Linked DNA regions of Homo sapiens. The protein of the gene in region 4 interacts with the protein of the main gene of each other region in a biochemical or structural test. Each region holds a gene or a part of one and is shown on either strand. Other genes may lie near its edges. The genes, in order: CKB, UBE2F, CBFB and CUL5.

Region 1 (7,451 bases), on a different chromosome or scaffold from region 4:
ATAAGTTAGGAAGCAGCAGGGCTGGTGTCGGGTGTGGGCCGGGCTTCATTTCTGGGCAGGCATGAGGTCGTCGATGGCCTGGCCCTGCTCCAGCCGCTGCTCCATCTCGATGAGCAGCTTCACTCCGTCCACCACCATCTGCACCAGCTCCACCTCTGAGAAGCCCAGGCGGTCAGCGTTGGAGACGTCGAAGACCCCGCCCACCGCAGCCGTGTCCACACCGCCTGGGGAGACAGCAAGTCAGGGCGGAGGAAACAGGGCTGCCCAAAGGCCACGGGAAGCCGCAGCACCTGCCCTGCTCACCTGTGCCTCGCTTCTGAAGTCGCAGCCGCTTAAGCACCTCCGAGAACTTCTCATGCTTGCCCAGGTTGGGCAGCTTGATATGCACACCTGCCCGCAGCCCGGTGCCCAGGTTGGATGGGCAGGTGAGGATGTAGCCCAGGTGAGGGTTCCACATGAACTCATAGTCCTTAGACTTGAAGAGAGTTTCAATCTGCAGACGGAGAAGAGGGTATGAGGGAGAAGGCCTGCCTGAAACCCCTACAGGCCCTGAGACTCCCCAGTGCCGGAAATCCCCCGGGGGGACTGATGCTGGGGCACCCACATCCCTGCTGGGGCCCTGGGGTCTGGGCCTGCCCCGTCCCTGGCACCTGGGTGAGGCCGGTGCAGAAGCGGGTGAACACCTCCTTCATGTTGCCCCCCTTCTGCATGGAGATGACCCGCAGGTGGTCCTCCTCGTTGACCCACACCAGGAAGGTCTTATTGTCATTGTGCCTGCGGGAGGGCTGGTCTCAGGGCATACCCAGAAAAAAGCCCCAGGCCGCCCCCAGACCAAAGGAACTTCCCAAGTCCCTGAGGTGCTGCTCCCTGCCATGCCCAGGAGTGGAGGCTGCTGCCAAGACTCCACCCGCCAACACGGGGCGGGCGGGGGAACCGGGACGCCTCACAGCAGGAGAACCCCAGCTGCCATCATGCGCTGTGGCCTGAGGTGGGGCGGGGCCAGGGACCGCCAGGACAGCCCGACCCGCCCCCCACAGTGGGGGTAGGAGCCCTGCCCCTGGAGAAGCTTTGGCGTCACCAGCCCCTGGTAGAATCCCAGCGGCGGAGGAGTGAGAAAAGAAAACAAAGAGCTCCAGCTCCCAGGGCCGTCGGGGAGAGGCGCCAGAGAGCCCCGCCCCCACCTCACGTCTCGGGGTGGGGAGGTGTTGCTGAGTCCTGAGCCCCCACGGGCCGGGGCCCAGTCCCTTAACGCACCTGCTCGGCCAAGGTCACCGGCGCAGGAGGAGGCGCGGCACGGAACCCAGACCCGGAGCGCGGCCGGCCCCTCCCTCCTCCTCCTCCTCCTCCTCGCCGCGAGGGGCCCCACCCCCGCGAGGGGGGCGAGAGGGAAAGCGGAGGTAGCGGGGAGGGAGGACGCCGCGAGAGGGCGCAGAGGGACACGCACCAGATACCGCGGGCGTCGGGCCAGTCGCGGGCCATGCCCGAGGCCAGCAGCAGGGGCGACACGGGCTTGTCGAAGAGGAAGTGGTCGTCGATGAGCTGCTGCTGCTCCGCCTCCGTCATGCTCTTGAGCGCGTAGTATCGGCCCGCCAGGTCGCCGTCCAGGCTGGACAGGGCTGCGAGGGGTGCGCTCAGGACGCTCGGCTCCCGCGCCCGCCCCTCCAGCCCGCAGCGCGGACCCGCCCGCCCCCGTGCCCCACCTCGGGGGACGTCAGAGGGCCCCACCCGCCCGGATCTGCGGGCGTCCAGTCCTCACGGCCCGGGCGACGGTCCCAGGCGGTGACCCCGCGCCAGGACCCGCCCTCCCTGGGCCCCAGGCCGCTGTGGGCGCGGGGCTGGGCCTCCGTCCCTCGGTCCCTCCGGGAAACTGAACCCGGGCGCGCGCAGATAAGAGCGCGACGGCGGCTGCCGCTCCCGGGCGACGTAAACAAAAGCGGGCGGGGACCGCGCCGGGAGGGGGACGCGGCCGCCGCCGCCCCTCGGCCCGCCCGGCCCCTACCTTCCACCGCGAGCTTCTCGATGGCGCGGCGCTCCCCGCGGCTGCAGTGCGGGGGGAGGCAGAAGCCACGGATGCTGCGGCCCGTGCGCACCCGCGAGCTCAGCACGTAGTTGGGGTCCAGGTCGTCGCCGCCCTGGGAGGCGAGACGGGAGTGAGCGCCCGAAGACCCCGGCCCCGCCCGCCCGGCCCGCCCGCAGCCCCGCACCTGCAGGTTGTCGGGGTTGAGGTCGGTCTTGTGCTCATCGCTGGGCTTGTAGCCGCCGTGCCGGTCCTCGATGATGGGGTCGAAGAGATCCTTGAACACTTCGTAGGACTCCTCGTCGCCCGCCACGCAGCCCACGGTCATGATGTACGGGTGGCCTGGGGGAGGGGGCGCGGGACGGGGACAGTGACGTCACTGCCGGGCCCGAGCGCGCTGCTGAGGACCCTGCGGCTGCGCGGGGGGAGGGGGGGCCGGGACCCCGGCCCCGAGGGGTCGCGTACCCGGGTTGTCCACGCCTGTCTGGATGACGTCGTCCAGCGTGAAGCCGCTCGGCGTGCTCTTGGCGCGCAGCTCCGCGTACAGCTCGGGGGTCAGCACCTTGGCCATGTGGTTGTTGTGGGCGCTCAGGTCGGGGAACTCGTCCTCGGCCGGGAAGCGCAGCTTCAGTGCGTTGTGGCTGTTGGAGAAGGGCATGGCGGCGGCGGGCTGCGGGGAGACGCGGGGTCAGAGGGGACCGGCACGCCGGGGTTCCCGGGCTCCCGCGTACCACTCAGGCCCCCGCCGCCGGGCCCCCCGGCGCCCCCCGGGACGCGGCCAAGGTCAGCGGGGTCCGCAGCGCGCGCGGGGAGCGCCATCATCGCCGGGGACCCCCGGCCGGTCCGGCGCGCGCTCCAGGCGACGCGCCCCCTTTGCACGCAGCGCCCCTAGCCCGGGCGCGGACGCCCCCGGCCCCCGGGCCCACTCACCGGGCGGCCGGGCGGGGGCGGGGGCGCTCCGTCCGTCGGCAGCTCCCGGAGCGACGCAGGCGAACAGCGGCCGCTCCGCGCTCCCGCGGCTCTTAAGGGGCACAACGCGGGCCGCCCATTGGCGGCTATTTATAGCCCATTCATTCCATTGGCCCGCGCCGCGGGGTGGTGCCGCCGCTTTGTCCGCCGCCCGCAGCCCCCAACACCCTGGCCGCCCACCCGAGCTGTCCCCTCGCTGGGACCCCGCGCAGCCTGCCCAGTCCCCCGCCCAAGACCTCGAGGCCGAAACCTCAGGTCCTTGGATATCTGGATCCCCTCGCACGCCCTTGCCTCTGGGCGGGAAACTGAGGCGGAGAGCCTCCGGGCACTCGAGGACGCTTGGGTTCATCCGCATCCTCGAGCCTGCCCGCCTAGTCCAGCCAGCCCCCGCGGCGGCGGCGAGGGGCCGGGCGAAAGCTTTCGGGGCTTCCGCAGCAGGTACGGCCCCCGCCCCACCCCCGGCCAGTGCGAGCTGGCCCGGAGCCGCCGACCTTCCTCAAGGTGCCCGCAGGCGTTTCCTGGGCGATCCTGGTGCAAAGCGAAGGCGCGCGGGAAGCGCAGTCTGGCTGCGGCCCAGCCCGGGGGCACCCGCGGTGCCCTGACCTTGGACAAGTCCTGGGTCTCGGGGGGCTGCGAGCCAGAAACCACGGGGACGCTGTGGCCTTAAGAGGCCGCTGGCAAGTGCAGCCTCGGAGTTTCCAGACCCCAACCCTGGGCCCTCTTCGCAGGGGACAAGTTTACCCGACCCCCAAAGGCAGTCCCCGGAGACTTCAGGCAAAGATGGGAGGAAACGCTAATAAACAATAAGCATAAGTGCGATTAAAAAAAAAAACTGATCTCACGAATAACCAGAATCATGCAAATTAAGCAGTGACTCCACCTGCCCCTACCCCCAACACTCCCAGATCGACCCCAGCCATTGCTGGCTTTGAGCTGGAATGCGGGAAGACAGGCGTCCACACGCTGCCTGCAACTTAAATTGCTGCATGCTTTTTGCAAGATAATTTGGCAGAATCTATTAACGTTAACAATGTTCGAACTCCGTGACCCAGCAATCTCCCCTTCTAGGAATGCAGCCCTTAGAAAGGATGTCTCAGTTCTCTCCACTAATGGACCAAGAGATCTGTGGAGGGAAAAACAAACATAACTGGATACAACCCGATGCCCCATCAGGCGGGAGTGGCCAAGGGTAGGGAGGCATCTGCTTGCTGTGGAATATTATGCAGCTGTTAAGAGGGGGAAGTGGAGGATGTGGGGTTAATATCCATCAGGGACCCTCATCTGTTGCTCTGTGAATAAAGCAAAGAAGGGGGGAACTCTTATCTGTGGGTATATTTGATACAAATCCCTCCAGCAGTGGCACAATGAGCACCTAACAGGTGCCAGCCGCTGGGGATACAGCAGGCAGCGAGGTACACAGCGCCTGCTGCTGGAAGAAGACTGGCCATGAGCCAGCAGCCCAACAAACCAGATGACATCAGATCGGTGCTGCTGGGGCCAGGGGGACACAGAGCAGTGGCGTTCCAGGTATAAGGGACCCCGAATAGGTGCCTCAGAGCAGAAGGCACCAGAGCCAAGGCCCAAAGGCAGGGGAAGCCTGTTCGCCTCTGCCTATGTGAGCATCGGTGTGGGGGCCTTTTCTCCTGTCTCATCCCCATGGTCACTGCAGAGGAGACACATGCCTCTTTGCTCCTTGGCATGCTTCGTCCTGTTCCAAGCCAGCATTTTTTAGACTTAATAAAACCAACCCATGTAAAAAGGCAAACGGCCCCTCTGGGCTGGCCAGACAGCAGGTGTCCCTTAAGCCTGGAATTCCTGCACTCTGTGCCCCGTGCAGCCTCTTCGCCCAGTTTTAGAAATTTCTGCAGCTGCCCACCTGCTACCCCACAAAACCTGAAGGGCTTAAGTTTCTGTTTCTGGAAGGGATAGCTGCAGCCCCTGGAGGCAGACTTGGGGGGAGGGAGAGACTTGGGGGCCACACTCAGGACTTCCTCTGTCTTCAGCAACTGCAGCTTCTCAGAAGGCCAACCCTCCCCTCTCTCACCCTCCTGGCTGAGAGCCTAACCTGCTTCCCAGGTCCCCCATGGGAAAGGACCCCCTTTCCCCTTTCCTGAAGGGGGCAGCCCCTCCCCCCAACACCTGTGGTTATTTCTCGTCAGGTGGGATGAGACTGAGAAAAGAAATAAGACACAGAGACAAAGTATAGCGAAAGAACAGTGGGCCCAGGGAACTGGTGCCAGCATATGGAGGACCCGCGCCGGCACTGGTCTCTGAGTTCCTTCAGTATTTATTGATCACTATTTCTACTATTTCAGTGAGGGGGATGTGGCAGGACTTTAGGGTAATGGTGGGGAGAGGGTCAGCAGGAAAACATGTGAGCAAAGGTCTCTGTGTCATAAATAAGTTTAAGGAAAGGTGCTGTGCCTGGATGTGCACGTAGGCCAGATTTATGTCTGACTTTACACAAACATCTCAGTGCAGTAAAGAGCGGTATTGCCGCCAGCATGTCTCACCTCCAGCCATAAGGCAGTTTTCTCGTATCTCAGTAAATAGAATGTACAATCGGGTTTTACACCGAGACATTCCATTCCCAGGGAGGAGCAGGAGATAGATGCTTTCCTCCTATCTCAACTGCAAAGAGGCCTTCCTCTTTCACTAATCCTCCTCAGCACAGACCCTTTACGGGTGTTGGGCTGGGGGATGGTCAGGTTTTTCCCTTGTCACGAGGCCATATCTCAGGCTGTCTCAGTCGGGGGAAACCTTGGACAACACCCAGGCTTTCTTGGGCAGAGGTCCCTGCGGCCTTCCGCAGTGCATCGTGTCCCTGGGTACTCAAGACTGGAGAATGGCGATGGCTTTCACCAAGCACACTGCCTGCAAACACATTTTAACACAGCACGTCCTGCACAGCCCTAAACCCATTAAACCTTGAGTCAACACAGCACATGTTTCTGCGAGCACAGGGTTGGGGCTAGGGTTACAGATTAACAGCATCTCAAGGCAGAAGAATTTTTCTTAGTACAGAACAAAATGGAGTTTCTTATGTCCACTTCTTTCTACATAGACACAGTAGCAGTCTGATCTCTTTCTTTCCCCTACACTTTCCCTCCACAGGCAAGGTCAGAACTGCAGATATGAGATCCAGAGGGCAGGGCTGCCTATGGCAAGCAGTGAGCCTGGCACTGGGGCGGCTCCGGCCTGGCGCCGCTGGTAACCCTCAGCTTTCTGAGGTGGGTGTTTTTGTCCCCAGTGTGCAGACAGAAGATCATTTTATTTTTGTTTTTATTCTGTTGAGACAGGGATCTTGCTGTGTTGGCCAGGCTGGTCTCAACGTGCAGATAGATCAGAAGTTGGGTGACAGAGGTGTCCAGTCATGGGCCCAGCAATCCTTCCACCCTCCCAGAGCGCCGGCCCTGTGCGAGCCTGCCTGGGGCAAAATGACAGTGTACGGGGGCCAGGCAGCTGTGACGGGGACAGCAGCAGCAGATAACAGTGGGGAGGTGGCCCTCAAGGCCTTCAGACCTAAATGTCAGGGTGAGACCCCCCAGGCAGGGGCTGATTGGGAGCCTTAGTGTCCCCCAGAGCAGGTGCACAAGGAGAGGGGCTTGGAAGGTGCCAGCCTCCCCTCCAGCTGACCTCCCCTGTCCACAGCCCCTGCTCTCCCTGGGGCCCACAGGGGCTGCTTTGGCAGCATCCAGGCAGGAGGCTGCATGACGTTACCAGGCCAGTGTTTGGTCCAGGTTCCTCAGAAATCACACCTGGTTACACGTGAACCACTGGGCCTGGAGGGGGCTTCAAAGGAGGCCCAGGTCTTTTATCCACAGAACATGACCCGGCTCAGCAGGTCAGGCACAGGGCAGACTCCAGGCAGGGCACTGGACTCTATCCTTGTAGTCTGCTCCTCTGCAGAGTGCAGCCAGAGGCAGCATTGCTTCCTCCCAGTGCCCTGCCCCTGAGTTCTGCAGAGCCCGAAGAGGAAGCGGGCTGAGGTCAGGAGAGGGACAGGGGCTGACTGGGGATCACAGAGCACAGTGGGGTAGGAGGCTGTGCTGCTTAGAGGGGAGGGACTGCAGTCACGTGGTCCCTGCCAGGGATTTGGGCACAGCAGCCTCCCCAGTGGGCATCCTTCCTGCCTGTTCCCACCTTTCTTCAAATCAGCCATTGGTTCTCTGAAGCCGGTTTACTGGCTTTAATTCTTAATTAAGAGATAGGGTCTTGCTATGTTGTCCAGGCAGAACTCCAACTCCTGGCCTCAAGCAGTCCTCCCTCTTCAGCCTCCTCAGTGCTGAGCTTTGGGGGTTTATTGGCTTTAAATCCTAATCCCACTTTGACCTCACTGGCTGTGACTTCAGGCAAGTTATTTAACATCTCTGAGTTTCAGTTTCCCCATCTGTAAAGTGTTCCCTCCCTCCTAGGATCCTGGGGAGAAGTCAATGAGATGGCACAGCTGGGCATATACAGCATC
Region 2 (7,023 bases), on a different chromosome or scaffold from region 4:
AAAAACCAACCAATCCACCTACACAACTTTTCCAGCAGCCTTAGGAGGAGAAATCACTGATGCCTGACGTTCTGCCCATGCCAGGGATCAGGGACACAAGTCACAGCAGGCATGAAGCTCCGAGAGGCTGCCTGCCCTAAGTGCCCTGACATCTATCAGGACCATTTTGGTAGAGAGAGGGCAGCTTAAATACAAGTGCCCAAGGTCGTCTCAAGCCTGCCATCTACATTTTTTCTCCTGGGTATCTATCATTAATCATATTTTCTCATCTTAGCTAAAATCAGCCACATGGAGGGAATGTGGTCTCTCATGTAAATAGGAGGGGAACAAGGCAAGGGACTCCAAGGGTCCATCCTGGGCAGGCAAGGAGGCTGCACTAAGAACTTAGTAGGGCTGTGGCCCCCAGAGGGCCAAGAGAAGACACTCGTCTGGAGGCAGAAGGTAGGGTAGGGTTTGGGAGCAGGCAGGCAACCGCAGCTACTTCAGCTGAGTTCAAGCCCTTCCTAATCTTGGCCATGCCTCAAAATCTTTTCAGAGGAGACAACATGTTTAAAAGCCCAACGCTTGCACATGACACTCACGAATGTAGAAGAAAGAAAAGACAATAAACTCACCTCAGACATATTTCCCCTGTCTCTGTGATGTTGGGGTGCCAGATCTTGGTCAGGCATTTCACTTTGGGAGGCTGCAACACAGAGACAATGAGAGAGATCACGCCGACAGTCTCTGCAAATCACATCTCCAGGCCAGAGCCTTACCACATCCCCTATCTAGACGCTTGTTTCATGGCTGACTCAGTGTGCAGTTTGACTCGCTGAACACGTGTTCAACCCTGAATACTGGCTCACCTCACCCATGAGGCATGTGTTGATGCGCTGCATCCACAAGGGCTAGTCTCAGCAGCAAAGTCTACCCGTGGGCTTCTGAGCACCTCTCTACAAGCCCCATGTGTCCTGCCGGCTGACAGTGCTGGTGACTGGACCTCTGTCACCTCCCACACCCCCTGGGTTTGGGACTGCAGAAGGTATCCACAGTGCACTCTAAGGAATAGTTCTACATCCTCTGGGTCCAAATCCAATCAGAAGCCCCAGATTCCTTTGCAATACAAGTTACTATGGCTGAAAGTTACTGCTCCTTGCAAGAACAGCCTGTTCCATTTGCTGGATTTTTCTGAAGATGCTATTGTCACATACGTTTTCCTAGATGAAAGCCCTAGTCCACTTTACATTTAAAGGAGAGAAAGAGAATGAAAATGAATTTGTGGGGATAAAGTATATCAACATCATTTATGACTTGGCATGTTTGGATAAAGTTCTTTTAAGATTTTTCTAGTTTGGGCATGGTGGCTCACTTTGGGAGGCCACCTAAAAGAAGAAAATATAATTAATGATAGATACCCAGGAGAAAAAAATCTCAGCACTTTGGGAGGTCGAGGTGGGAGGATTGCTTGAGGCCAAGGGTTTAAGATTAGCCAGGGCAATATAGTAAGACCCTGTCTCTCCAGGGAAAAAAAAAGAGCTGGGCATGGTAGCTCCTGCTTGTAGTCCCAGCTACTCAGGAGGCTGAGGTGGGAAAATCACTTGAGCTCAGAAGTTGTAGGCTGCAGTGAGCTATGATCGCACCATTGTACTCCAGCCTGGGTGACAGAGCGAGTCCCTGCCTCCAAACCAGAAAACCAAACCAAACCAAACCAAACAGATTTCTCTGTTACAAAGGCAATCCATACTCAGAGAGAAAAGGACAACACAAATGAAAAGAAACATACGTAAATATCTAATAAATTCTGCTGTCTTTCACTTTTGTTTTTTATGTAAGAATATATACACTCCATCAAAATGCTACCCAGAAATTATGTGACACCTGATGTACATGTGTTTATGCCTCTTTTCTAGGCCACACACATAGTGTGCATGCAGCATACTCATTTTTCTTTATAGAAGAAAGCTGTGCTACATATGTTTTAGTTATTTCTGCCATCGTTTCAGATGGCATCCTGCATTCCATGGTACACCTGCCCGAGTTTAATAGGCACTTCCCTACCTCTGGGCCCTCAGGTTGCTTCCTCTTCTCCCAACCCTGCTCTATCAATGCAGGGTTCATCCTGGGTGAAATGTTTCCTCAGGATGAAGCCCAGGAAGAGGATCTGCTGGTCATAAACCCTAGCTTCTGATACACTGCTCATGTCCTTCAGAAGATGTGACACCCCGCCCGCCAACCCCACCACAACCTGCAGTAAGGGAGAGGGCCTCTTCTCCAGGACCTCCCACAGAAAGGTCCCCTTGGTTAATATGCAGAAGTGTCAAATCACAGGATCTCATCAGAAAGGTCATCTCAAAAAGGAATCAAACCTTTGTGAAATGGGTAACATTTTCCCTGTGTATCATCTGCTATTAACTTTTATTTATGATGCTTTCTGAGGAGTTTATTTTTGTAATCAAATTTTTATCTTTGATGCCATACTTAGAAAATACTTCACCATCCAAATATCCTCTTTAACTTTCTAGTAAACTTTTATAGTTTCATCTTTTTATTTATTTGTATAAAGCAAAAATACTTTTTCGACACTATAATGAGCATTCTTCCTAATTTCAAAATACCACAAAATCAGTAGATTCCAAAAAACTGATTAAACTGACTGTGCAAATCCATGTGTCTGAGGACAAAGAATTTAGGTTCAGAATGAGTTTAAATAAATTTCACATTGTGCTTTTCTACAAATAAATGGGAATGTATTTAATAGAAAGGAGGAACTGCATCTTTCCCTTCTACTGAGGCATTTGGGCTGCAGAGGGAAGGTCAGACTGCCATGAGGGGCAGGGCTCTGTGCCCCCTTCTGGGTCACTGGATGGTGGCAGGCTAGTGCTAGGCCAAGTCACCAACTCTCAGTTTTTGTAGGAACCTAGAAAATTGGCAAACTCACTCTCCCTCCCAAGCAGGTACCCCTTCTGCGGAGGCCCTCACACATGACCATGCAGCCTGGTGCTACCACATCTCCCAAAGGCTTGCGGGTATTCGCCCTTCCTCCTGTCCCCTTCACACCTTCCATAATTTGATGTTAACACAGATACCTCCTTTTGTCAACGGTCCTCTTAACTGTGGTTCCAGAACAGAGGGCAAAACTCTGCACCTGGCTTCTGACATACATACTTTCCAAACTGAATTAGGCCTGTAGCCCCTTCCCCCCAACCCCAGTGGCCCACAGCTAGACCAACAAGCAATGCCCAGCCCTCCCACATTCCCCCTCAGTGCTTGGCACGGCCACCATCACTCACCCTGCCAGAAGCCTAATGTATGACAAATCTGGCCTCTCAAACCAACAGAGAACTGGGTTATTTGGTGGGTCACTGGCTACCCATTTGGAAAAACACAGTGTTCCAAATGCATTAAAATTAAACATAAAAGAGAATTATAGGACTAGAAGAAAATGTAGATGACCATCTTGGGGTCTGAAGGCTGCTTTAAGCATATCATAACATACAAAACTCAAGCAGTGAAACAAAAAAACCAAACTTGTATAGAACAACGACTAAAGACGGCAAATGCAAAACAAAGAAAGTATTTACAGCATAGCTAAAAAACTGAAGAAAAAAGTTTCACATACTTTGCTTGTAAGGACTCTAGTAAATCTAGAAGAAAAACAAATATCCCCAATGGAAACATGGGCAAAGGACATAATAGCAGCTCATAAAAAATATAAACAGCTTATTAGTGGGAAATACTATTCAGCATCCGACTTAAGAAATGAAAATATAATGCTTGAATCCAGGAGGTGGAGGTTACAGTGAGCTGAGACTGTGCCACCGGACTCCAGCCTGGGGGACAGAGCAAGACTCTGTCTCCAAAAAAAAAAAGAAAAGAAAAGAAAAGAAAAAGAAATGACAATCGGATATTAAACGAGATACCATTTCCTCCCAAAATGGCAACAACAACAACAAAAAGGCAAATATTCTACCTTGGTAATTGCTTAGGGAAACGGAATTTTCAAACATGGATGGTGAGGATGCCAACTGGCATTCCTCTCTGCAAGGTAATTTAATAGGATTTATCCAGAACCTTAAAATGGAGCATCAATTACTCAATACCCATAATGCCATGTCTAGGAACTGATCCAGAGGAAAGAGGCAGACAGACATAAGATGCATGCCCCAGACTTACCTCACAGCCCTATTTATTCTGGGGCAGCAGACCACAGCCTACAGACCAAATCGAGGCTGGGACTGTTTTCACATGGTCAAAGACTGGTTTTTACATTTCTAAAAGGTTATTGAAAAAACAAAAAAGAATATGGGACAGAGACTATGTGGTCCACAGAGCCTAAAATATTTATTGCTTAGCCCTTTACAGAAAGTCTGCTTTATACTGCAAAAGGTTGGTCAACCAGTGACCAATGATAAAGGACTGGTTTAAATGATACATCATACAAGGAAGTGCTCTTATTAATAATGATGCAATTGTGCATTGACTGACATGAATGTGTACGTCCATCATATTATGACGGGAAAGCCCCAAGTTACCAGACTATGTGTAGCATCGCCCCATTGGTATGTGGAATTTATACTGTCTGCAACAGACATTAGAGAGTCAGGGTGATCATCTCTGGATGGAGAGATTACAGGTTATTATTATTCTATTTTTGCATGGCCGTGTTGTCTCAATTCCCTACAAAGTCTGATAATTTCATATGAAGAAGAAGGGAGAGTGGGAGTTCAGGTGTCACTTGTGGTCGTCATCACTGCTGTTCAACAAGTGTCTCTGGCTCTCCTCCTCCAGGGCCCATGGCAGGACTGGCCTTCCTTAGTCCCTCCGGGCTGGCCATGGTCATGTTATCTGATTTGGCCAACAACATGTGAGGAGACGTGGTGTCTTCACTTCCAGGAGGAAACCAGAGCCAAGAACAAAGAGCTGTAATCCTTTCTCCTGCTACAGCACACAGCTTCCTCCAACCAGTCCTGACCGACGCACCTGAGGGCTGTGTGACACCACAGGCCAGCTAGGGTCTGGGCTAAGGCTCTCTCCTCCTCCAAGGCATCCCCAGGCCATGTCACGTGCTCCTCCTCTGGGCGTCCCCACCAGCCTGAGGAATAGCCGTCACCCACATCACCACCCGGGCTCCTCATTGTCATGTCAGCGTCTGTCTCCCCAGAGACTGAAATTCTTAAAAGGCCACCAAGTTCCCATCCTTGGCCCTCCAGTGTCTGACACGGAGCCTGGCACAATGTAGGAGCCCACTAAATGTCACTACATCCGTTTGGACAGTTTCTAAACTGACAAATTACAAGGCAGGCTTTAGGCTGGGAGTTAAACTGCAGAGGCAAAGGAACAAAAACACAAAGAAAATTTGAATTTTGGCTGCTGGGATATTGGGTGGGGTGGGGGATTCCAAATGGACATTTTTCTTTTAAAAGTTTATTCTAAAATAACGATCGACTTTATTAAAGGTTTTCCACATTCACAGTCTTAATAACAGACCTTCACTGCAGGAACTGTAACTCTTAGGAGACAAGTCCTTATGAAGTACAGAAATTGTGTCAAGTCAGTCATGGCAGTGAAGCAGATGCACCCTGAGAAGCCCCAGCCCATCCCTAGGCTCCGCACTGGCTGCTGTATCCGTTCTCACTGACCCACCTGGTGCCCTCAGAGTGTGCCCTCACACTCTATCCTGAATGCCTGTGCCTATGTGATTTTCCTATGCTGACTGAATTATTTCATCTCTTTTCTACACTAAGTTTGTAGGGGGCAGAGAGAGGGGCAACCACTGAACAATTTGTGTTTTTGCCTAGCATGGCAGGCACAAGCTACACACCGGAAATAGTGTGGGCAAGACAGCTGGCACTCCCTCAGGGCTCACAGCCCAGTGGGAAAGAGATGCTCAGGAGAGTCTGTAAGCAATGATTCATTATAAATATGGCAAATGCAACTACTTTTGTGTTCAGCCAAGTACTACACCCTAATGATCCCCTGGAGACGCCCTGCTGGGGACACCAGTGACATATGCTGGCCCCTAGAAGTTGCCCCACACTTGCCTGAATGAGAGGCAGACAGGAAGAAAACAAGAGAAGGGAACAGGAGGCTGGGTTCAGTGGCTCATGGCTGGAATCCCAGTACTATGGGAGGCCAAGGCAGCGGATCACCTGAGGTCAGGAGTTCGAGACCAACCCGGCCAACATGGTGAAACCCCGTCTCTACTAAAACTACAAAAATTAGCCGGGTGTGGTGGCAGGCACCTGTAATCCCAGCTACTCCGGAGGCTGAGGCAGGAGAATTACTTGAATCCAGGTGGCAGAGGTTGCGGTGAGCTGAGATCATGCCATTGCACTCCAGCCTGGGTGACAAGAGTGAAACTCCATCTCATTAAAAAAAAAAAAAAAAAAAGGCTGAGCACAGTGGCTCCCCAGCACTTTGGGAGGCCGTGGCGGGCAGATCACCTGAGGTCGAGAGTTTGAGACCAGCCTGACCAACATGGAGAAACTCCGTCTCTACTAAAAATACAAAATTAGCTGGGCGTGGTGGTACATGCGTGTAATCCCAGCTCCTCAGGAGGTTGAGGCAGGACAATCACTTGAACCCGCAGGCAGAGGTTGTGGTGAGCTGAAATCGTGCTAGCCTGGGCAACAGAGTGAGACTCTGTATCAAAAAAAAGGCAGGGGGGACAGGAAGGAAACGCTGGGGAAAGGAGAGGAAAGGACCCTACAGAAGCAGGGTAGGAACATGGTTCATGCAGAGCCACCAGCTGCTCTCAGTACTTCTGGGTTTGAGAACATGGGGTTTTATTCCTGATGAAATCTGACCAGCCCATCATTTATGAAACTTCCAAAAGAGACAGCAGTGGAAATAGAAAAATGTAAGATCATCGTTACAGAGCTAAAGGTCAAACACAGCACACAGAACTTCAGAAAGGCTGCATGGGAATGATGTTTCCCCACAGGGACTAGTAGTGGGGAGGGGAGAGGGGGGCTGGGGAATAGCAGGTCTGAGACAAGGACAGGAAAATTTAAGCCTTACCCCTCCACCTCAACCTCTGTG
Region 3 (7,039 bases), on a different chromosome or scaffold from region 4:
TCAGCTTCAAGATGGTACAATATTTTCTCAGTAACTGAAGGGAAACTATTTCCTTAGAAAAAATGCATCAGAGGCTCAGAGACTTCCTCTGTGAGGAGAGGCAAAGGTGGGTGGCTGCTGACACCAGACCTGGATAAAACCATCCTTTCTGCTGGGCCTGCAGAGGCAGGACATCTAGACTTTGACCTTCCAAGCCAAGAAGGGACAAACAGGCTCAGAGATAGGAATGCACAGTCCTCAAGGGCAGACCCACATCCTGCCACAAGGCCCAAAATAGAACCCCTTTCTTCAACCTGTGGGGACCCTTCTAGAACATGGTGGGGTGCTCCCAGAGGAATAACCCCAGACATAGCCTTCTATGAGTTTGCAGTTCAGTGAGGGCAGCAGGCAGGACTTTTGGTATCTCCACTAGGTCTCAGAGTAGAATGATTAAAATCACCACCCTGGGGTCACTTAACCCCTGTGAATCTCCGTTGGCCCATCTGTAGAATAGGATCAATAATACTAAACTTACAGGGTTGTGGTGAGGAAGGAATGAAGATGATGTATCCCAATGCTTAGCTAGTTTCTTTAGAGTCGGGGGAGGGTCTCACTCTGTTGCCTAGGATGGCCTCAAACTCCTGGCCTCAAGTGATCCTCCCACTTCCACTTCCCAAACTACTGAGATTACAGGTGTGCACCACCATGCCCAGCCCCCATTTTGTTATTTCAAATGGATCAGGGTCTCGTCACTGTCCTTTTTTACTTTTACTTTTTTTTTTTTTTTTTTGAGGCAGAGTCTTGCTCTGTCACCCAGGCTGGAGTGCAGTGGTGCAATCTCGGCTCACTGAAACCTCTGCCTCCCGGGTTCAAGTGATTCTCCTGTCTCAGCCTCCAGAGTGGCTGGGATTACAGGCACACGCTGCCACGCACAGCTAATTTTTTGTATTTCCGTGGAGACCGGGTTTCACTGTGTTGCCCAGGCTGGTCTCGAGCTCCTGAGCTCAGGCAATCCACCCGCCTCAGCCTCCCAAAGTGCTAGGATTACAGACGTGAACCATCGCTCCTGGCCTTATTTACTTTTTCAAAGTCTGTTTCCTCATCTCTCAGGAGACAGAAGACCTGACTTAGAAGATGGTTGTGTGGGCCGGGCGCGGTGGCTCACGCCTGTAATCCCAGCACTTTGGGAGGCCAAGGCGGGCAGATTGCCTGAGGTTGGGAGTTCGAGACTAGCCTGCCCTTCTCTACTAAAAATACAAAAATTAGCTGGGCGTGGTGGCAGGCGCCTGTAATCCCAGCTACTCAGGAAGCTGAGGCAGGAGAATCGGTTAAACCCGGGAGGCAGAGGTTGCAGTGAGCCGAGATTGCACCATTGCACTCCAGCCTGGGCAACAGAGTGAGACTCCGTCTCAAAAAAAAAAAAGAAAGTGGTTGTGTGAATTAACTGTGATAAGGTGCATGAAGGCACCCTGAACAGAGCTTCACAGTTGCACTAGGCAAGTGAGGGTTCCTGCGCTCTCCTCAGCTTCATTGTGTATTATCTACTTACCCACCCAAGATCAGCTTTAGGAGCCTGCAGGAGCAGCCACCCACCTAGGAAGTTAGGGAGATACTCAAGAGGAGGCCCTTGGTTGGCTTGAATCCTTACGAAAGGAAGATTCCAGATGACCGGACTTCAGATAATTCAGTCAGGTTTTGGGACGGTGGGGGCAGATGTTTCTTGGCACAGAAAAGACACCTCTAAGCCTCCATGAGTGGGCCTTAGTAGAGCTGGATCTTAGCAAACCCCCTTAGCAAACACCCATAGCATGGTGTCTGGGCCAACCCATACCCAACTCAACAGCTGCCAAAGCTGTTAGGAGCACAGACTTAAGTGTACCTTACATGGGTGAAAATTTCCTTTATAAATTTCCTTTAATTCTGTTTTTTTAAATAAGTGAAAAAAAATTAACAACCAAAAAGGCATATAGAGGTCAGCCGAGGAGATGGCCTCCTTCAGCCTGTGGCTTATTTCCCGGTCATCCTGGCTGTTGGATGCCAGACTACGACGAGTGTGGGTTACCCTGTGGCCTGGAGTTGCCCAAGGCTGTCTGTGGGGCTGCTGTTCTGGGTCTGCTTGGCAGGCTTTGCTGTCCCTTTCCCTTAGGACATCGTTCCTCCCCTCCTTGAGGCTGACAATGAGAGCGCCCTGCCCTGCTCTGCACTCCCACCCCTCCAGGTCTAGCTCCCTTGACCCTGACCTTTTCCTTGCCTAAGCTCATGGCCATCAAGGCCATTCTAGAGATCTTTCAATTTTTATTTATTCCACATTTCCCATGGCAGAAACAATTATTGCTAGAGTCTTTGGCCAAGATCAACTTGGAGGTCTGTGAGCCCTCCTTGGACCCATTGTGGAGCAAGAGTGCTTCCTCATGGATTTTTTTTCCCCCCGAGACGGAGTTATGCTCTTGTTCCCCAGGCTGGGGTGCAATGGCACGATCTTGGCTCACCGCAACCTCTGCCTCCCAGGTTCAACCAATTCTCCTGCCTCAGCTTCCGAGTAGCTGTTTGAGACGGAGTCTTGCTCTGTGGCCCAGGCTGCAGTGCAGTGGCACCGTCTTGGCTCACTACAACCTCCGCCTCCCAGGTTCAAGCGATTCTCCTGCCTCAGCCTCCCGAGTAGCTGAGACTACAGGCGTGTGCCACCACACCCCGCTAATTTTTGTACTTTAGTAGAGATGGGGTTTTGCCATGTTGACCAGACCGGCCTCGAGCTCCTGATCTCAGGTGATCAGCCTGCCTCGGCCTCCCAAAGTGCTGGGATTAGGCCAGGCGCAGTGGCTCATGCCTGTAATCCCAGTACTTTGGGAGGCCGAGGCGGGCAGATCACCTGAGGTCAGGAGTTCGAGACCAGCCTGACCAACATGGCGAAACCCCGTCTCTACTAAAAATACAAAAAAATTAGCTGGGCGTGGTGGTGGGTGCCTGTAATTCCAAATACTCGGGAGACAGAGGCAGAAGAATCACTTGAACCCAGGAGGCGGAGGTTGCAGTGAGCCGAGATCGCGCCATTGCACTCCAGCCTGGGCGACAGAGCGAGGCTCTGTTTAAAAAAAAAAAAAAAAAAAAAAAAAAAAGAGGGCTGGGATTACGGGTATGAGCTACAGTGCCCGGCCACAGGACTAACTTTGAATCAAACTCTGCCATAAATCCCATGTCAGACTTTCTCCAGTTTGGGCTAAACAACTTCCCTAGAATTTATGGATCTTATTTTTTGCAGCTGATTGCACATTGAGTAAGTATATGGACTGGCAATCGGTTACATTCTTAACTCAGCTTGTTCTTCTTTAGAAACTTAAATTTATTGGGCTCCCACTGTGTGCTAGACCCACATAAAGGTTCTCACGCTAACACTGCAAACCTAGGAGTGTCTGCATTTTGGAAATAAGGAAACTGAGGTTTAGTGGTCCAATTCTTATCTAAGGCCCCAGCCAGCAGGTAGTGTAGCTGAGTGGGATCCCATCTAAGACCCATCTGACTCCAAAAGCCACGACCTTTCCACCATGACTCGGTTGGATTCTTTGGTCCGTTTCCACCTCAGTCTTCAACGTGCAGAGCCTACACCCCTGCCGGTCGGTTTAGGGACGAAAAGTCCCCAAGGACTTAGGTTTCCTCGCGTTCAAGTGACAATCTGGGGTTACTCCGCGCACCTGGGGAACCCAGAAGTTCCAGATGACCGAGGAAGGGCGGTAGAAAAGGCCTGCGCTGGCTACTCCCGTCTGCTAAAGGCCAGGCGGATCCCCCAACGACAGCTCCACGCCGAGTGGCCGCGGGCGAGCAGGGGGAAAAGGGCCCTGATGCGGAAGGAGCCCCGGGGCGCCACAGCCAGGCCGCTCCGCCAGCGGGCGGGTGGCGCATGCGCGGCGTGGGCCGCGGAGTTGTGAATGGTGCGTCTTGTTTGCCGGAGTTGGAGGCGGGCGGGCGCGCGAGGAGGAGGGGTGGGGCCGGCGGGGGCGGGGTGGGCGGTGAGAGGAAGTGGCGGCGGCGGCGGCGGCGGCGGCCGGGGGCGGTGAGCGCTGGGGCTGCGCGGGCGGCAGGCAACGGCTGAGGCGGCGGCGGCGGCGGCGGCGGCGTGGGTTGGGCTCGAGCGGGCGGCGGCGCCTCAGACTCCCCGGAACGGGAGCCCACGCGGGCGGGCGCCTGAAACAAAGGGAAGCGGGCGTCCGGGCGCCGCGGGTGGGCGGTCAGTCGGTCAGCGCGGAGCCAGCCAGCGGGTGCCCGCGCAAGCCCCGAGCGCGGCCGGCCGGCGCGGCCTCAGGGCGGGAAGATGCCGCGCGTCGTGCCCGACCAGAGAAGCAAGTTCGAGAACGAGGAGTTTTTTAGGAAGCTGAGCCGCGAGTGTGAGGTGAGGCAGGCGGGCGGGCGGCTAGGAGGCCGCAGCGCGCCCCGAGTGGGCCCGGGCGGAGAAAAGTTTGGGCGGCACGGTCCCCGGGAGTCCCGGTCGGTGCGCCCGCGGAGGGGCAATCTCGCCGGGGCGGCCATCGCCCGCAGCCTCTGCTTGCCCTTATCGGCGCTGCGCTGGGAGGGCGGGCGCGCGGGCGGCGCCGCGGATTTGGCTCCTGATTTCGGGCCGTCTTGCCTTGCAGATTAAGTACACGGGCTTCAGGGACCGGCCCCACGAGGAACGCCAGGCACGCTTCCAGAACGCCTGCCGCGACGGCCGCTCGGAAATCGTAAGTCGGCTGGCCCGGGGCGCGCGCGGGTCACTTGTTGCGCGGGGCCGCGGCGGCCCAGGCCGGTTCCGGACGGCGGCGCGGCTGCTGCGGCTCCCGGAACTGAGTGGGCGCCGTCTCACTTCCTACTCGGGATTCAAAATGCGAAACCAGATGCCGCGGGCCGGTACTCGCGGGGAGACGCTTTTCCTGGGGCTCGCCGCGGTGGCGCGTGTCGGCCAACGGAGCACCGCGAGTGGAGCTCGAACCCGAGCCAGACTAAACAAGCGAAGGGCATTGTTTAGGCGGCGACACCGAAGAAGGGTTCAGGGTATTTGTAGCAAGCAAACCCCCATTCGGAAAAAGAAGTGGAGCTTCATTCAAGGTCGGCGATAGTTTGTTTCTTAGAAGGTAGATCTGTCGGTAATTCTCTGTGTCAAGCGGTCTCACTACCAGATCGCCGAGTAGAAATCTTTCCTCCAGTTATTTATTCTAATAGAGAGGGGAGGGGGGGGAAAAGGCCCTAAAAATGTCATTTTCTTAGAATGTTAAGCTTCAGGAGAATCAGAAAGAAACCATTATCCCCATGTCCTGAGTAGGGCTGCTGTTCCTAAAAACTGCACAGATGGGCAAAACCCACGGTTGATCTCGAGGTCCTTGTTTTAGGAGGCAGATTTAGTGCGTCTTCACCAGACCTTGGGTTGAAAAAAAAAATCCAAGGGTCCTAGTTCCTCTCATCTTTTTGGTTTGCCTTGTTGGAGGTGCTGATGAGGAGGGAGTGGTAGGAAGAAACCAAGAAAAGAGGTTGATTATTACTATTTTTTTGAGGTAGAGTCTTGCTCTGTTGCCCAGGCTGGAGTACAGTGGCTCGATCTCGGGTCACTGCAACCTTCGCCTCCTGGGTTCAAGCGATTTTCCTGCCTCAGCCTCCTGAGTAGCTAGGATTACAGGTGCCTGCCACCACGCCCGGCTAATTTTTGCATTTTTAGTAGAGACGGGGTTTCACCTTGTTGGCCAAGCTGGCCTCCTGACCTCAAGTGATCCGCCCTCCTCGACCTCCCAGAGTGCTGGGATTACAGGCGTGAGCCACTGCGTCTGGCCTGATTATTTTTTAAAAAGTTGAAGCACTGTCTAATGGAATGCTGTTACTCTCTGCTCGGTGACTTGGACTCACTGCATTGTTAGAGGCTTGAAGCTAGGTGCGATTTGAATTTGGGTTAACAGTAGGAAGACATTGGAAATTTACTTCTCCCACCCCCTTTATAAAACCAGTTTATTTTTATTCAGATATAATTCATATGTCATAAAATTCTCCCTTTACATCACTGAACTCAAATTTATTTTTAAAGAATATTTTGATATTTTAAGTGAAAGCTTTTTAGAGTTGTAATAGTGAGAAGATACTGGTTAAATTTATCAGGAGCTCCTGAATATTTGGTCATTAGTGCATGTTATGAAAGAGAGTCTCAAGCTTTTAGCCCACTTGCAAATTTCTTGAGTAATTGTAGTATTTATATGATTGAAGTGCATAAGACATACTTTTAGGTTTTGGCACTGAGTGGTATAATAAAAGAATTCATTAGCTGGTGCGATGATCGTGTCATCCTTTGCCTGGGTTACCTTTTGCAAAGGGAAGGTGGTATACCTGACGATAGAATTTCCTGGAGGTAAAGGATGCAAGTATAAAAGATAAGTTACAAAGTACTTGTACTCTCACTGTTTGCTTTTTTGTTTTGAGACGGAGTCTCGCTCTGTTACCCAGGCTGGAAGCACAGCAGCATGATCTTGGCTCGCTGCAACCTTCGCCTCCTGGGTTAAAGCGATTCTCCTGCCTCAGCCTCCTGAGTAGCTGGGATTACAGGCACACACCACCACGCCCGGCTAATTTTTTTGTATTTTTAGTAGAGACGGGGTTTCACCATCTTGGCCAGGCTTGTTTTGAACTCCTGACCTTAAGTAATCCTCCCACCTCGGCCTTCCAAAGTGCTGGGATTACAGGTGTGAGCCACCGCGTCTGGTCTTGTTTCGTTTTTTTTTTTTAAGAGAGAGGTCTTGCTGTGTGGCCTAGGCTGGGGTGCAGTGGCTGTTCACAGGCACAATCATGAGGCACTACAGCCTCAAACTTCTGGGCTCAAGCGATCCTCTTGCCTCAGCCTCCCAATAGCTGGGACTACAGGCTCGGCGTCACCATACGCAGCCCCATGTGTTGTATTATCATCACTATCTTTGAAAGCTGAATTTTTTTGGAAATTTGGTGAATCATAGCTAGTAGGGTGTTTTCTGTCATCTCAGACTTTGCTGAATGGAATTATGAATTCAACCCATAGGATATCTGAAATGCTGTAATATTATAGTAGTAGTACAGGTGG
Region 4 (7,023 bases):
TACTCAATTTAAGACTTCACACCACGCCCACCATGTCTATACTCCCTTAACTCCTTTCCTACTTTACCTACTTATTTGTTTTATTTTTATTTATTTATTTTTTGAGACAGAGTTTCGCTCTTGTTGCCCAGGCTGGAGTGCAATGGCACGATCTCAGCTCACCACAACCTCCACCTCCTGGGTTCAAGCAATTCTCCTGCCTCAGTCTCCTAAGTAGCTGGAATTACACGCATGTACCACCACGTCCAGCTAATTTTTCGTATTTTTAGTAGAGATGGGGTTTCTCCATGTTGATCAGGCTGATCTCGAACTCCCGACCTCAGGTGATCCACCCGCCCTGGCCTCCCAAAGTGCTGGTTACAGGCGTGAGCCACTGCACCTGGCCTATTTACTTGTTTTAAAATAGACAAAAAGAGTCTGGGCACAGTAGCTCAGGCCTGTAATCCCAGCACTTTGGGAGGCCGAGGCGGGCCCATCACCTGAGGTCAGGAGTTCGAGACCAGCCTGGCCAACACAGTGAAACCCCGTCTGTAGTAAAAATACAAAAATTAGCCGGGCATGGTGGTTGGTCCCTGTAATCCCAGCTACTCGAGAGGCTGAGGCAGGAGAATCGCTTGAACCTGGGAGGCAGAAGTTGCAGTGAGCCAAGATCATGCCATTGCACTCAAGCCTGGGCAACAAGAGCGAAACTCAGTCTCAAAAAAAAAAAAAAAAAAAAATTAAAATAGACAAAAAGAGTGAGAAAAAAATCCTACTGGAGAATGGAGAAAGTTGTCTTTTTAGAATCATTCAAACTTGGGAAGTAACGAAAGGTAGTCAAAGAAGAGAAAAAACTAACAGCAATTTCTTGTTATAGGTTTATTACACTAAAAAAGATACAATGCTAAGGACAGTATGGTGTTTTATTATCATTATCCTATACTAGTGAGGATGGAAAAAGATGGTATGCAATACAAATGCTTCCCTGGGAAACAAGGATAAGTATAACATAACTCCCGAAGGAGTCCCATGAAAGGACGGAGGATGGAGGAATCAACTCTGCTGGTGATGAGCTGTGGAGGGAGGCAGGACATCAAGGAAGCTCCAGGGGAAGTATTCTTTGAGCTGGGTCTTAATGGAAGGATGAATAGGAATTCAATAGATCAGTAATATTCAAAAACAGAAAAACATTCTTGGAAAAATGAGAAAAAAGCAACTTTCTAACTAAATTCTAATTCACAAGGCTATCTAATGTTTAACAAATGCTTACAGCCAAGACAAAACGAATATAGTTGTTCTCCACTGATGAAAAATAACAGTTGCTAGGTTTTTAAGTTTATAATTAATAGAAAAATAATGCAAATTGATTATTAGAAGTAAATTATGAGAATAAAACTTTTAAAAGTGTTTTTTATATATATAGGAATATATACCTTATCTCTTGCAGTAAGAAATCGTGGATCATCTTGAAAAGCTTCTTTGACGAGTTTACTAAATCTATTAAATAGTGTAAGTAACTGCTCAACGTATTTCTCAGAGTCCTAGAAACAAAAGGTTTTACATTAAGTTTTTAAAAGAAAAAGAATAACACAAAAAAATGAGAAAATAAACATAATTTTAATAAAACTCATTTAAAACTGGGGATATTTTTTCTTAAAAATAAAACTAAAAGGTGTTCCAATATTACTGTTTTGCCACTTCTTTTTTCTTTCTTCCTTTTTTTTTTTTTGAGACGGAGTCTCGATCTGTCGCCCAGGCTGGAGTGCAGTGGCACCTTCTCGGCTCACTGCAAGCTCCACTTCCTGGGTTCACGCCATTCTCCTGCCTCACCCTCCCAAGTAGCTGGGACTATAGGCGCCCGCCACCCCGCCTGGCTATTTTTTTTGTATTTTTAGTAGAGAGGGGTTTCACCATGTTAGCCAGGATAGTCTCGATCTCCTGACCTTGTGATCTGCCCACCTCGGCCTCCCAAAGTGCTGGGATTACAGGCGTGAGCCACCTTGCCCAGCTCCCTGTTTTACAGAGAAAATAGTAATTTCAATTACTATTTTCAATTTTCAATTCTGTATTTTTAAAAATTTAATGTTTTTATTTGTAATCAACACATAATGGTACATATTATGGGGTACAATGTTATATTTCAATGCATGTATATACTATAATGATCAAATTGGGGTAACTACTATATCCATCACTTCAAACATTTATAATTTCTTTGTGGTAACAACATAAAAAATCTCTTCTATCTTGAAATATACACTACATTGTTACTTGCTATATCCGCCCTAATGGGTAATAGAACACCAAAACTTATTCTTCCTATTGAACTATAACTTTATACCCCACTAACCAACCTCTTCTGCTCCCCCAACCCCCAGCCTCTGGTAACCGCTCACTATTTTCAATAATCCTACATTTAAAAAATAGCCTTGATATATATCTATCATTGCCATTGAAAAAAAACTTACAGTAGTAATAGTTTCAGCAGCTGCTACCATATCTGCCAGGCCAGCACTAATGATATGTTCCTCCAAGTCTTTCAACATTGGCTCTATACCATTAGGAACTTTGTCCATCAATGAAAACATTAAATGTAATTCTGGAAGGAGAGAACACATTCATGTAATCATTTCATTTACTAGAGTAAGAGTTTAGAGAAACATTAGTTAAGTTTGTAATGTTAATAGTATTCTGTGGATACAATGCCATTAGGAGTAGTTGTTCGTTTTTTTGTTGTTGTTTTTTTGTTTTTGAGACAGGGTCCCAGTCTGTCACCCAAGCTGGAGTACAGTGGCTCGATCACGGCTCACTGCAGCCTTGACCTCTTGGGCGCAAGCAATCCTCCCATCTCAGCCTCCTGAGTAGCTGGGACCACAGGCACATGTCACCATGCCTGGCTAATGTTTTTTGTAATTTTGTAGAGACAGGGTCTCCCAATGTTGCCCAAGCTGGTCTCAAACTTCGGGGCTCACACAATCCTCTCGCCTTGGTCTCTCAAAGTGCTGGGATCATAGGTATGAGCCACTGTACTTAGTCTAAAAATTATGTTTAAAAAAAAATCGAATTAAAAGTGATCAGGCTGGGTGTGGTGGTTCACGCTTGTAACTCCAGCACTTTGGGAGGCCAAGGTGGGAGGATCATTTGAGCCCAGGAGTTAAAAAGACCAGTCAGGGCAACATGGCAAAACCCATCGTTACACAAAAACAAACAAACAAAATTAGCTGGGTGTGGTGGTGCATGTCTTTGGTCCCAGATACTTGGGAGGCTGAAGTGTGAGGAATGCCTAAGCCCAGGAGGCTGAGGCTGCAGTGAGCCGTGATTGCACCATTGCACTCAGCCTGGGTGACAGGGCAAGACGGTCTCAAAAAATAAAAATAAAAAAAGTGATCAAATACTGCAAAACCCAACTCCTTTCTTTAAAAGGTCAGTCATTTGGCCAGAAGCAGTGGAGATCAGCCTGGGCAACAAGGTGGGGCTCTGCCTCTACAAAAAATACAAAAATTAGCCAGGCATGGTGGTACACGGCTGTAGTCCCAGCTACTCAGTGGGCTGGGAGGTGGGAGGATCGCTTGAGCCCAGGAGGTCAAGGCTACAGTGAATTGTGATCGTGCCATCGAATTCCAGGTTGGGCAACACAGCGAGACCCAGTCTCAAAAGAAAAGGTGAGTCATTTGGTTTTCAGTGCAAAGGAATATTTATTTACACACAAGATTAGTTTATTTCATAAGGTAGTTGTAATACTACATATACAGCCATATCATCAAAAGGTAAAAAACATGAGTAATAATTACGAAAGCAACTATATTAGAGATTAGAATATAAAACTGTATTCATAAATAATTTTTCAATTTACAAAGCACTTTTTCATGTTATGCCATTTTATTGACCTTCACAAAAACCCTACCTCACGGTACTGATTACCACTAAATAAATCCTTTTGAAAAGAGTGCAACATAGATCAGACATAACTCTAATTAGACTGGCACACAGAATACAAGTATTTTGTTTACGCCAATAAAGCAGCTTGCTTTTTACTACTGAATTACTCCTAAAAAGTGTATGAACTTAAGTGAATTGAAATATGCACTTTAAATGCAACTAGAGATTAAACAGGACCTTGCAGTTAGATATAATAAAACCTGGAAACTCAGTAGAAGTACGTTATTTAAAAAACAAAAGCAAAAAAATGTTAAAAGCAGTTTTACTGGGGTAGTAGGTATATGTACAATTTTTTTTTTTAGTTTGTTATATACTTGCTACCTCTCAAAACACATCTTTTTAAGAAAACATTGAAGTAATAAAAAAATCCTTTAGAAATCTTATAAAGTATTTTGGGGGACAGAGATGACTATTAACAGGGAGTGTTTTATTACATTCTAAAAAGATTCATCACAAGGTTCCACACAAAAGTCAAATACCTGGTTCTAATCTATAACATATGTTTCCAGTTTAAACTGGCCTTTAAAAGCAGTGTCTTGCTTTTGAGAAAAAAGTAGAAATTCACCATACACATACACAGATGTTGATAGCTAAGAGGGAAAATGCTTAAAATTTAAGTTTATATACTCTTAGCAGTGCCTCTGTGTTAAATATTTTATCTATTTCCTTAAGTATAGTTCACTCTAACAGTTCCACATATACCTATGTGGAAAAGAATTAACTAAGAGCAACTTAGTAAGTGATTTGTTTCAAAGATACCCTCTTAGAAGATTATGATAACTTTATGTGATGTTTTACCTACTTTCAGTTTCATTTCTCTTGATCATGCCTTGGCACTCAGCTAAGATAGTCTCTTTAAATGATGTCACCAGGGCATTTACACAGCATTCCATGAGCTGAAATATATCAAAAATTAGTCAAGGCTACTATAAGCTGTATAGCACAAATCTATTCTAACTCACAAAATAAAACAATATTGTTCAACAAAAAAAAAATTATACTGAAAGTAGATTTCACTTACCTTAACTATAGGATTATTGAAGATGGATATGCTATACTAGTTTACCAAAGTGTATTTTCCCCTAAGGAAAAAAACTATAGAACTAGACTCTCTTTAGAAATTTTAACAAAAGTCCTCAAGGAGGGGAGAGAAAAATATACAAAACCAAACTTTGATTAACTCTTCCTGTCTGGAGAGAACCTGTTTTAAAATTAGGTTATAAAATTCTAGAAGTGTGAATACATTCATTCAACAAACCATTATTGGATGCCTACTACGTGCAGGCACTAAGGAAGTATTTAAGAGACAAGAATAAGATATAATTCCTGCTCTCGAAGAGATCACTGTCTAATTGAGAGTGAGGAGGGCAGTAAACCTACACTGCTAACTAAATATAACTCAGTTAAGTGGCATCACACACATACACAAACACACACAAAATAAAAAAAAACTTAGAAACTACTTTTTTCTAGGGTAGTTAAAATGGCCTCATCCACAAGTTGGTATCTAAATGGGATCCTGTAAAGTAAGTACAAGCCCTAAAATAGGTTACGTATTCTAGGAATACCAGGAAGCTTAAAATGGTAGAGAAGAAACAGACAGTGGAAGAGAAGGCTAGAAAGATAGGCTGCAACCAGATTATGAATGAAAATCTATGATTTGGGGTTTTATTTCATAGGTAGGGAAGGAAGAACAAAGGAAGGTTTTTTTGTTTGTTTAAGAGACAGAGTCTTGCTCTGCTGCCCAAGCTGGAGTACAGTGGCATTACTACATAGCTACTATCATACCTCACTACAGCCTTGAACTCCTAGGCTCAAGTGATCCTCCTGCCTCAGCCTCTTGAGTAGCTAGGACTACAGGGATGTACTATCAAGTCTGGTTAATTTTTTAAACTTTTCTGTAGAGATGATGTCTTGCTATGTTCCCCAGGCTGGTCACAAACTCCTGGTCTCACATGATCCCCCTGTCAGTCTCCCAAAGTGTGGGATTACAGGTGTGAACCATCAGGCCTGGCCCCAAGGAAGTTTTAAACAGAGGATAAATGTAATGAGATTCTCCTCTCCTCAAGTCATTATTAAAGATCAGTATAATGGTAGTAAGGCAGGTGGTAAGGAGTGGGTGGTTGGGATATGGTAACGAGGCTGTTGAACTATTTCAGGTAAGATAGCAAGGGTCTAGTGCTCTAGGAGGCCATCAGGAAAATCTAAATGAGGCAGAAGATATCATGTCATCTCTGCTCCCTCGTGTCATGTAATTATTTACTTCTCTTTTGGGGATCAGATGAAATTAATAGGTTGTGAGGACTAAAGTTAAGTACAATAAGGCTGATATATTTCTTCTGAAAAACAAATCATCTATCTGTAAATTAAGGGAGGCAATTATGTGTCCCTTAAAAATTTTTTATTAAAAATTCCTTTGGAATTGACATAATGTTGGTAACTACTAAAGCTGAATTTAGGTAATGGGGATTCATTATACTGTTCTTCCTACATTGTAAAAATGCTTAAAATTTTCCGAATAAAGAATTTTCTGTGGTCCCTGCGAGTTGGGGGGCTGAGGTGGGAGGGTCAGTTAAGCTCAGGAGGTCAAGGCTGCAGTAAGCCTTGATCATGTCACTGCAGTGTAGTCTGGGCGACAGAGCAAGACTGTCACAAAACAAAACAAAACAAAACAAAAAAAAAGGTTTTTTCAGGCTCCTCTACAAGAATGATGCTGATGACTTTTAAATGCATATATCCATGTATATTTCTGTCCTAAGAAAATAATACACATGGCTGGGCGTGGTGGCTCATAGCCTATAATCCCAGCACTTTGGGAGGCTAAGGCGGGCGGATCACCTGAGGTCAGGAGTTCAAGACCAGCCTGACCAACACAGAGAAACCCCATCTCTACTAAAAATTAGCCGGGCATGGTGGGTGCCTGTAATCCCAGCTACTCGGGAGGCTGAGGCAGGAGAATTGCTTAAACCTGGGAGGCAGAGATTGCAGTGAGCCGAGATCGTGCCATTGCACTCCAGCCTGGGCAACAAGAGCAAAACTCCGTCTCAAAAAAGGAAAAAAAAAAGAAAAATAAAGAAAAGACTACACATATAAAATGGTTAAGAA

Evidence for each region.
Region 1: of the proteins of CUL5 (region 4) and CKB, one has a biochemical effect on the other in vitro, tested with the Homo sapiens proteins (one study listed by BioGRID).
Region 2: of the proteins of CUL5 (region 4) and UBE2F, one has a biochemical effect on the other in vitro, tested with the Homo sapiens proteins (2 studies listed by BioGRID).
Region 3: the proteins of CUL5 (region 4) and CBFB form a complex in vitro, tested with the Homo sapiens proteins (4 studies listed by BioGRID).

What each region holds. Positions count from the first base shown.
Region 1 is NC_000014.9:103,519,819-103,527,269, forward strand, and holds the start of CKB (creatine kinase B-type), read right to left. Parts: upstream 3,013-7,451; 5' UTR 2,948-3,012; intron 2,688-2,947; 5' UTR 2,676-2,687; coding exon 2,483-2,675; intron 2,360-2,482; coding exon 2,205-2,359; coding exon of another isoform or gene 2,133-2,204; coding exon 2,000-2,132; intron 1,617-1,999; coding exon 1,445-1,616; intron 775-1,444; coding exon 651-774; intron 494-650; coding exon 304-493; intron 225-303; coding exon 46-224; 3' UTR 1-45. UniProt on the Homo sapiens protein: Reversibly catalyzes the transfer of phosphate between ATP and various phosphogens (e.g. creatine phosphate).
Region 2 is NC_000002.12:238,019,004-238,026,026, reverse strand, and holds part of UBE2F (NEDD8-conjugating enzyme UBE2F), read right to left. Parts: intron 686-7,023; coding exon 615-685; intron 1-614. UniProt on the Homo sapiens protein: Accepts the ubiquitin-like protein NEDD8 from the UBA3-NAE1 E1 complex and catalyzes its covalent attachment to other proteins. Together with the E3 ubiquitin ligase RNF7/RBX2, specifically neddylates cullin-5 (CUL5).
Region 3 is NC_000016.10:67,025,123-67,032,161, forward strand, and holds the start of CBFB (core-binding factor subunit beta), read left to right. Parts: upstream 1-4,026; 5' UTR 4,027-4,285; coding exon 4,286-4,363; intron 4,364-4,604; coding exon 4,605-4,691; intron 4,692-7,039. UniProt on the Homo sapiens protein: Forms the heterodimeric complex core-binding factor (CBF) with RUNX family proteins (RUNX1, RUNX2, and RUNX3).
Region 4 is NC_000011.10:108,067,887-108,074,909, reverse strand, and holds part of CUL5 (cullin-5), read right to left. Parts: intron 4,815-7,023; coding exon 4,721-4,814; intron 2,579-4,720; coding exon 2,448-2,578; intron 1,521-2,447; coding exon 1,413-1,520; intron 1,111-1,412; coding exon of another isoform or gene 1,033-1,110; exon of another isoform or gene 844-1,032; intron 1-843. UniProt on the Homo sapiens protein: Core component of multiple cullin-5-RING E3 ubiquitin-protein ligase complexes (ECS complexes, also named CRL5 complexes), which mediate the ubiquitination and subsequent proteasomal degradation of target proteins.